3 separate regions of the Homo sapiens genome follow, and all the other regions are linked to region 2. Evidence: fine-mapped expression QTL. A gene starts in region 2. Each other region holds a variant in brackets. All regions are shown on one strand. Distances are from middle to middle. Region 1 has its middle 50 kb from the start of CRAT37. Region 2 holds the start of SV2B (synaptic vesicle glycoprotein 2B). Region 3 overlaps SV2B (synaptic vesicle glycoprotein 2B).

Evidence for each region.
Region 1: its variant is fine-mapped to the expression of SV2B in T cells (TOPMed, PIP 0.91).
Region 3: its variant is fine-mapped to the expression of SV2B in pancreas (GTEx, PIP above 0.99).

Annotation. Positions count from the first base shown.
Region 1 is chr15:91,512,181-91,514,940 of GRCh38, reverse strand. No RefSeq gene overlaps it. Among named protein-coding and RNA genes, the nearest start is that of CRAT37, 50 kb to the right of the region's middle. The variant T/C (reference allele first, on the strand shown) is at 1,653.
Region 2 is chr15:91,098,980-91,101,739 of GRCh38, reverse strand. SV2B (synaptic vesicle glycoprotein 2B) reads right to left here and starts at 1,483. Exons shown (of 13, transcript NM_001323032.3): 1 at 1,377-1,483. RefSeq lists a silencer at 1,257-1,656 and an enhancer at 1,706-2,247.
Region 3 is chr15:91,150,589-91,153,348 of GRCh38, reverse strand. The region is part of intron 1 of SV2B (synaptic vesicle glycoprotein 2B); the gene reads right to left. Among named protein-coding and RNA genes, the nearest start is that of SV2B, 52 kb to the right of the region's middle. The variant C/T (reference allele first, on the strand shown) is at 1,217.

The DNA.
Region 1 (2,760 bases), 410 kb before region 2:
ATAACAGCTCCGCTGTTACTAGACACAGTGTACTTCCGTCTTCCTTGTAGCCTCTCCTATTCTAATTTGAGGGCATCGTCTTCCTGCTGGGACCCTGACTGCTAGAGGTCGTTTATCTATATTCTCCTTTCTCCTTCCACCCACATGCCTGCAAAACAATGACTCCAATGATCCTAAATGATTCCCTTCTCCCTTCTTTCTTTTGGAGCACATAGCAAGGAATCTTTTTATTCAGTTTAATTTCTTGTAAGAGAAAGGAGGTACTACTCTATCTTATGCTTTTTGCCCAACAAAATCCTACAGGCAGGGAATTATAAGGGCCTTGCTCTCTACTTAGACGAAGTGGGGAGGGAAGGAAGAATCAATACAAATAAATACCTTAAAAATATATCCTGTTATAAGCTTCCCTGGCTGACAATCTGCCTGCTTCCAACCTGGACATGAATGTTCTGCCCCCACTCAGCGGCCTCATCCACAGCCCATTTGGCAGTAAAAACCGAATCAAAGGAGGGCAGATGCATTTCATTGCTATGTCAGCCCTAATTGATTGGCTCCTGATACATGGTATTGGGAACAATTCTGAGGCCTCATCCCAGCTCAGCAGGAAAGAGTACTGTAATCAATTAGGGATGCCTATCCTGGGAGGTGACCAGAGGTACAGCAGCCAGAGCTATGTGTTTATTATTCCCCATCTAATCTCTCCCTCCATCTCAGCAGCAACCCCTTTCTTGGCTAGTTAACCCTCAGGTGTTCAAGAGGCCATTTCTCTCATAGGGAGAGGTCAAACTGGGTGCTAGGGCAAGAGCTGTAGCTTTCAAATTATAATACCCTTTTCTATGTTAAGAGTGGTTGTTCCGTACAGGTTTCTGCTAATACTGGCTGAATAGACATTGATGGATGATGATTCTGTATCATCTCACAGTCCTGCTATGTCTTCAGAGCTTTCTTCCTTTAGCCTTTTTAAAAATAAATATGCCACCAAAGTTTATGCTAACAGAAGGGTTTCAATATTAAATAATGACTCATTGAAGAATGAAATGGAGATATTTTTTACCCTCCTTTCAGCAATTGTTCTGCATATCTTTCCCCAGGTCCTCAAAGTCAGATTCAAGGACATCTCCATGTTTTGTTGTGTCTACCTCTAGTTCTGGCCCTATTCTTGAAATAAAGAAGGAGCCCACAGCCTCTGCCTGCCAATCACTGAAACTCAGCATTGGCAATCTGGCATATCTTGTTTAACACTGAGCTGCTACGTCGGTTTCTCAACAGACTCACGGCCCTGTGTTTTGGTTGCTGTGATGATGAGCCTTGATTCTTGGGACTGGGTTTCTGCTTCATTCCTTCCACCATCGCTGAGAATGAGGCTTTGAGCTCCTTGCAGGAAGGAGCCTTCCTACTCCTTAAAAATCCTCTCAAGTGATGACTCTCCACTGCAAATCCCCTTCTCCGCAATCTCCTCACCTCCAGCGGGCTCTGCCATATCATTTTTGTAGCCCTCCCCACCCATGGATGGCTGTTAGATGTGCCTTAGCTTTCATTCTTACCTATATTGCTGCCTCTTCTTAGGGTCAGTTCCACTGACCTATGTCTAAATCTGGGTGGGTAAGTCCCATAATTGGCACACACTCTATTCTCCGCCTCTACCTCCACAT[T/C]GCTGTTGTGGAGTCGTGAAGATGTGCACAACCTGAAACTTCAGAGCAGGATTTGCCTTTAGATGCCAGACAGCTCACATAAATGAGCACCACTGATCAGGTGGGAACTGTGTAAACCAGAGAACAGATGTCCACTGAAAGAGAGGCATACACAGCTCAACCTTTGCCACTGGAAGCCAAAAATCCAGATTATGTGGAGCCTCTCAAATCATTAATACTGTCAACTAATTCACAGGTTTCTTAACAATGTTCTAATCCACATGGCATTGGTTTGTGAGTTCTACTCTATAGCGAAAAGGTGAAAGGTAATTTTCTAGTAATAACAACTAATGTTCATCTTCCTACATTCCAGCTTACCAATTCTTTCAAATGACTTGAGCAGTTTGCACATAGTGGAGAGCTCATCAAGAATTTCTCTATATATGAAGGAGAACATATTTGGAAAAAAAGTTTTTCTTGGCTGGATAGCATTAAACATTAATTCAAAATAAAACTATTTCAAGCCACATTTATTCCCTAAGAAATGAGATGAAAAGAAACCAAATGAATCAGCCAGATGATTCCAGCTCTTTAATCACCAGCATCACTATTGCTAATTGAATCTTCAATGCATATTGGCTTCACTCCCTGAGGTGCACTAAAACAAATATTTAACACTTGTCTCCTTAAGATGAAATACTTCACACGGATGAAATATTTCACGTTTGAAATTAAAAGTACCCATAAAATTGCAGCAAAGGCAGACTATGGCATCTAAATAGAGGACTGCAACCTTGTAGTGGAGAAAATAACATTATTCATTGGATCATTGAGGATCAGAACCAGAAGCGTTCTTATGACTACCGGTTTCCCAATGAAATTTACAAAGCCTAGCTGTCAGTGTTCTTAACCAACATAATGAAGGTAATACCTACGCATTACCTTGAACCTATCTCTTGCTGCTTTTATTATGGAATCAGATTTTTGATGCTGATTGGGTTGTAACGGTCAACTGTTTTGACCAGATGTCAAAATAACCAGATGTTCCCGTTAATTGGTTGGCAATTGACCTGAATTTTTTGATGTAGTTGATTCATTGTTGCATTTTGATTTGGTTTCCAAGGTAGAG
Region 2 (2,760 bases):
GCAATGGTGTGGGAGAGTCATGTGGGTCACTCCCGGACCGAAGAACCAAGAGAGCGACCCAGTCCCTGCTGAAATCCACGCCATGCCTAATCCATGAGGGCTTCATTTTTATACTAATCACTGCCACTATCAATTTCCTCCTCCTCTCTGCTCTCACTGCTCTTTTCCAACACCATCATGAACTTATCCACCTCCTGATTACGAGTGCTTCTCCCCCTACCAGGTGTGAACCTCAGGGAGCCAGGACATTGTTATCATCATCTCTGCATCCCCAAGGACTAATCCCATCTCTGACAAATACTAAGTGCTCAGTAAGTATTTGCTGACTCAAGAAAGATGCAGAACGAGCCTGTACCTACTGCACCAACTGGAACAAGCAGAACAAGTCACCTCTTCTGGAAAGGGCAGGAAGCAGAAACACAGAGGAGACCAGCATAGACCAGAACCACCGCTGAGCCGACTACAGTGCCCAGTCCTCCCTCATGCACCCTCCTTACCCCTCACCTGCCACTCTCTGAGCCCCAAAGCCACCCACATTCACCTCCCCAAGGGCTAGAAAGCCAGCAAGCATTCCCCCAGCGTCCCACCCCACCCCACTGGGGCTGCTCTTATCAGAGCCCAAGACACCAACGTTAAGTTACCCTTAAACGGAGTAATTTGCATCTGTAATTTCCGGATAAAGGAGTGTATTTCATCAGCCCTGCTGAACCCTGGACAGCAGAGATTTCTACCACCCGTCTGCCGAAGACACAGCGGTGCCTTGCTCCTCCCTGGCTAAACGCATTTGCTAGCCCATCCCTGCAAAACAAGTCATTTTCTTTCCCTTGCGCTAAAACCCGTCCATAAACAAATCCTTCTGTGTCCCTAAGAAACGGCTCCCACGCCCACGGAGGGCGCCCTGCACATACAGAAATACACACTCACAAACCCCAAGAGCCACCAGGTGTAAGCACGTTTGAATTCTGTTCTTTAAGAACAAGCCAACAACAATAACAAAATCTATCTACTAGAATGTAACTGAAACTAAAAGCAGCGGCTAGGAAGCTTATGGAAACGGAGCTATAAATGCCAGCAGCCTGACATTTATAAGTTGCAAAACTACTTATGGCGCTAATAGTTCAAACAGGGTTTTAAAACAGCCCTTGGGGAGGCCGCTTTCAAAGAAGCGCACAGCTCCAGGCAGCGGGCAAGTCCTTGCTTTTCTGCGCCGGTTTTTCAAGACTCTCCGATCTTTTGTGCCATTTACTATGAACAGCACTCAGCTGTGCGAGCGTGTATATTTCAGCCCAGGCAGGCGAGTCTGGGAGCCCTGGCGCACGCGGGGTCCGCGCCCCGGCTGGGTCGGTTGCACCGCAGCGAGCAACGCAGTCCCCTACCTGGGTGGCAAATCCGCTGGCGGCCGCCTCCGGATGCAGGCAGAGCAGCGTCCGCCCCGGCAGCCCCGCGTGCAGCTCCGGCTAACGCGGAGCTGGGCGATCCGGGCGGAGGCAGGCGCCGGCGGGTGTCACACCTGCATCACCGCGCCCACGCCGCCCCCGCCAGCCGCCCAGGCGCAGCGCGCAGCGCGCCCCCGCGCTACAGAGCACGCGGGGCGGGAGGCTCCTGGGTCCTCTACTCAGCGGGATCAGATCCTAACCCGCTTTCTTCCCGGCCCGGGCATTAAAAGTATTCGCTGCGGGCAGCTCTGCTTCTAAATCTCCTTCTGATCGAAGGCTGGGTGTGGAGATAGCTCAGAGGGAAGGAGGACCAGTGAGGCCGCAAGGTCTCCGGATTTGCAGACCAATAAATATTAAACTTCTTATTCCTCGAGTTTTGTAACCAGCTGATCATGGGCGTCGTCTCGCTGTCTCCACCCCGCCTAGGGCGAGGGGGCGCTGTGGACTCCACATGCCCTTCCACCCACTCCGAACTAGGATGCGTCAGAGGACTAGACGCAAGTTCCCGGGAAGGGGAATCCTCTGATCACGCCGCCCCCAAAGTATCGTCGATCATGGTGCTGTTCGACTGCTTTGTTCTCGTTTGCCTCATCAGGAACTGAAGAGAACCTACCCGGCCAGCGCGGGGAGGAGGAAAGCCTGCAAGGCTTGGTGCATTCAAACAAGCCCTCCACCTCTGTCTCCCTCCTTCCAAACCACCACCCACTAACTCCACTGACGAGAGTTCAGCAAACTAAACTGCCAAGGCTCAGCACCGAAAGACTCTTTAGGAGCATAGGGCTCCTTCTAGGAGCAAGTAAGGAGCAAGGAAAGGACACTGGAAATTCGGATGCGGACTCAAACAGCACAACACTGCAGGTGCCTGGCCCCTCTAGGATCCGAAGCTACGTTCCTTTCCTAACAGGGCTAAAATGAAGGCCAGTTCTGGAAGAGCCTTCCCCCTCTTCTCCATGGAGCACATCCTCCATCATGAGGTCTTCAGCTGGACTCCCCACTCTCGCTGCCGTCAATGACCTGCGCTCCAGCTCCCTGCCTCTTCCCTGGCTGGGGCCTCCGCCGACTCGCACCTGGACCACCCGCAAGGACTTCAACTTCTCAGGCTCCTGGAGTCATTTCTCAACATGTAAATCTGATCTTGACTCTTTCCTACCTAAAACCATGTGATGGCTTCCCAGTGTCCTTGAAAAATCCGAAACATTTTTTTTTTTTTTTTTTTGAGACAGGGTCTGGCTCTGTTGCCCAAGCTGTGGTGCAGTGGCTGGATCACAGCCTCAACCTCCGCAGCTCAAGCAATCCTCCTGCCTCAGCCTCTCAAGTAGCTGGG
Region 3 (2,760 bases), 52 kb before region 2:
GGACACACAGTGACGCTGGCACCAGAGATGATGTGACGTGGTCCAATAGTGAATCCTGCTGCTATGGTTCGAATGTATTTGTCCCCCCAAAAGTCATACGTTGGAACTTAACCCCTAAGATGATAGTATTAAGAGGTGGAGGTGAAGTAAGTAAGTCACGAGGGCTCCACCTTGTGAATGGGATTAATGCTCTTCTAAAAGAGGCTTCAGAGAGCTGCCTGATCCCTCCATCTCCCCTGCCATATAAGGACAGAGCATTCATCCCTTTAGCCCTTCTGCATGTCAGGGCAGAGTTCACCATTTCCATCACATGAGAACCCAGCACCATCTTGGAAGGCACCAACTAGGAGGCAGAGATTCCCCCTCCAGACACGAATCTGCTGACACCATGATCATGGACTCCTCAGCCTCCAGAACTGTGAGAAATAGATTTCTATTGTTTGTAAATTGCCCGGTCTCAGGTATTTTGTTATGGCAGTACAAAATGGACTAAGATACATGGTATGAGTCTCCTCTTTTAACTCTTTTATCTATCTAATCATGGAGAAAGTCTTAGTTGGTGCTGTGGGATGAAAGGAAGCTCAGAAAGAAAACCTCTTTCCTTTCTGTTTCCTTTCTGACCTTTGCTAATATCTTCCTCACCCCACATTCCCTTTTTTAAAGGTAACACAAGCCAAACTTACACAATTTGACAAGCAATAGATGATAAAAAGAAGTGATACCAGGTATCATTTAATTTCTTTCCTATGGTTACTTTGAATATATGAAAGCAATACTGTTTTTCCTGTTATGGCAGTGATTAAAAGCTTTACTTTGTAATGCATCTATTTAAGGACAAGATGTAAATTCACTTCTTAAAAATTAAGTAAATAATAATACATGTTCCCTCATATGGAAAAAGATCAGGAAAGTGAAGCCCAAGAGACTCAAAGGTGGGAACAGTGCCCTGTGTTATGCCACCTCTCAAGGCTGGGAAATCCCAGCTGCGATATCAGCAAAGCTGGCAGCTCCCACCCAGCTCCTCCAAACACCATTAACCATGTGTGTTCATAGAGAATAGCTGTGAGTTCTCACAAGTTTTACAAAAATCTATTCACAAGTTCTGGAAAAAACAAAGAACATTGACTCATTCTCTCGCAAAGAGCCTCAACGATTTTTTTAAAGAGTAAAAACTGGGCAACCCGCTTGGGTCCCCTTCCACACTGTGGAAGCTTTG[C/T]TCTTTTGCTCTTTGCAATAAATCTTGCTGCTGCTCACTCTTTGGCAAAAAAAAAAAAAAAGAGTAAAAATTAACTCAGATTGACAAAATAAACATTTGTCCTGACATTCATCAGGCTGGGATAACAGACATAGATAAAGCTACTTGCAAAGTATACCAGGAAATGATATTTCTACCAAGGACACACCACACATAATAACCTTCTTTGAGTAACTACTGTTTTCTTGCATCCTGAAAAGCCTTGATATCTAAAATCAGTGACTATCAGAAACTTCACTGTTGGAAATTGTATGAGTAGGAATGAACCATCTCACTCTTGCCTGGAAGACCTAAGTCACTTTGACACAGAGAAGCAGCTTTGATTTCCAGCCCAGATACAAAGCTTCATATAAGGGGTTTCTGACGAAAACACTCACATTTACCTTAACCTTGTCATTTCCAAGGAAATGGGAGCCTGGGTTCAATTTACAGTCCAGACCCCTCTATACCCAGCACTGCTTTGCTTTTAAGCTTTATTTTCATTTTACCTAAATTTTAGCCTTCTTGAAAACTGTAGAATAATTCTATCTTTCCCTGTGTTTGGTGAGATGTCCAATGGCCCTTCAGGCATGCAGCCTCCATCATGAAAATGGATCAATAAATCTGACTTTCTTGGGCTGTAGATTGGTCCTTAGTGGTCTCAGGCTGATTAGGCTAAAGTGGTTTATATTTAACTTTTGTTATTCAGGCTTTTGGAGGTACTCTTTATCTTTCAAAATAAACAAGCAAATAAATCACAACAGGCTCCCTGGGGATATTATGACCAAATTATAAAGCTGCAGTTTAACTTTTCTATGGAAGCCACCTGGTAATTTGACTCAATTTTTCTGTGTAACCATTAATGACATGGTTTTTCTCTTCAGATGGTTGTGCTTTTGTTTTGTTTCAATGGGGAGTTTTGGCCCTGATCAGTTTTGTGAATAGACACACAGGCTTGAATGTGCACACATGTGCTTAACTGTTAGTCTTCCATCTCAGCACAGGGCAGAGCTCCACGCTCATGGTGAGGCAGCTCCATGGTCAAAGCCCACAGGCTCTCACCTAAATCATCTTGACTGAGGATCATCTGGATGAAAAGGAACCCATGCCCCCTCCCAGGCTACACGCGTAAGGGGGTTTCTTTCATCATAATCATATGAGTCTCCTAGGCAAGGGGAGGAAAGTCTAGCCCAGGAGCAGAGGGGTGGGGGTGCAGAATTCAAAACTCCTTCCCCATGGAGCCATCTGTTCTCTTGTCTCTGCTTCCTCACAAGCATCTGCCTGCTCTCTGCTCACTACAAGCTCCTCTGCACCCATATCTAAGGCTCAGACATGATTTTGTGGCATGATTTGCCACAGTATGACTATTTCAGTCTCTCAGAGCCTCAGAACTAAATTCCCAGGACAGAAAATATGATGGAATTCGTTTCCTTACAATTTGTGCCCACCCATCTGCTTATGGAAGCAGACACTGGGGCAGAAATATGGACAGCTGGTCCTCCTCCCAGCAGGAGCTAGGGATCAGG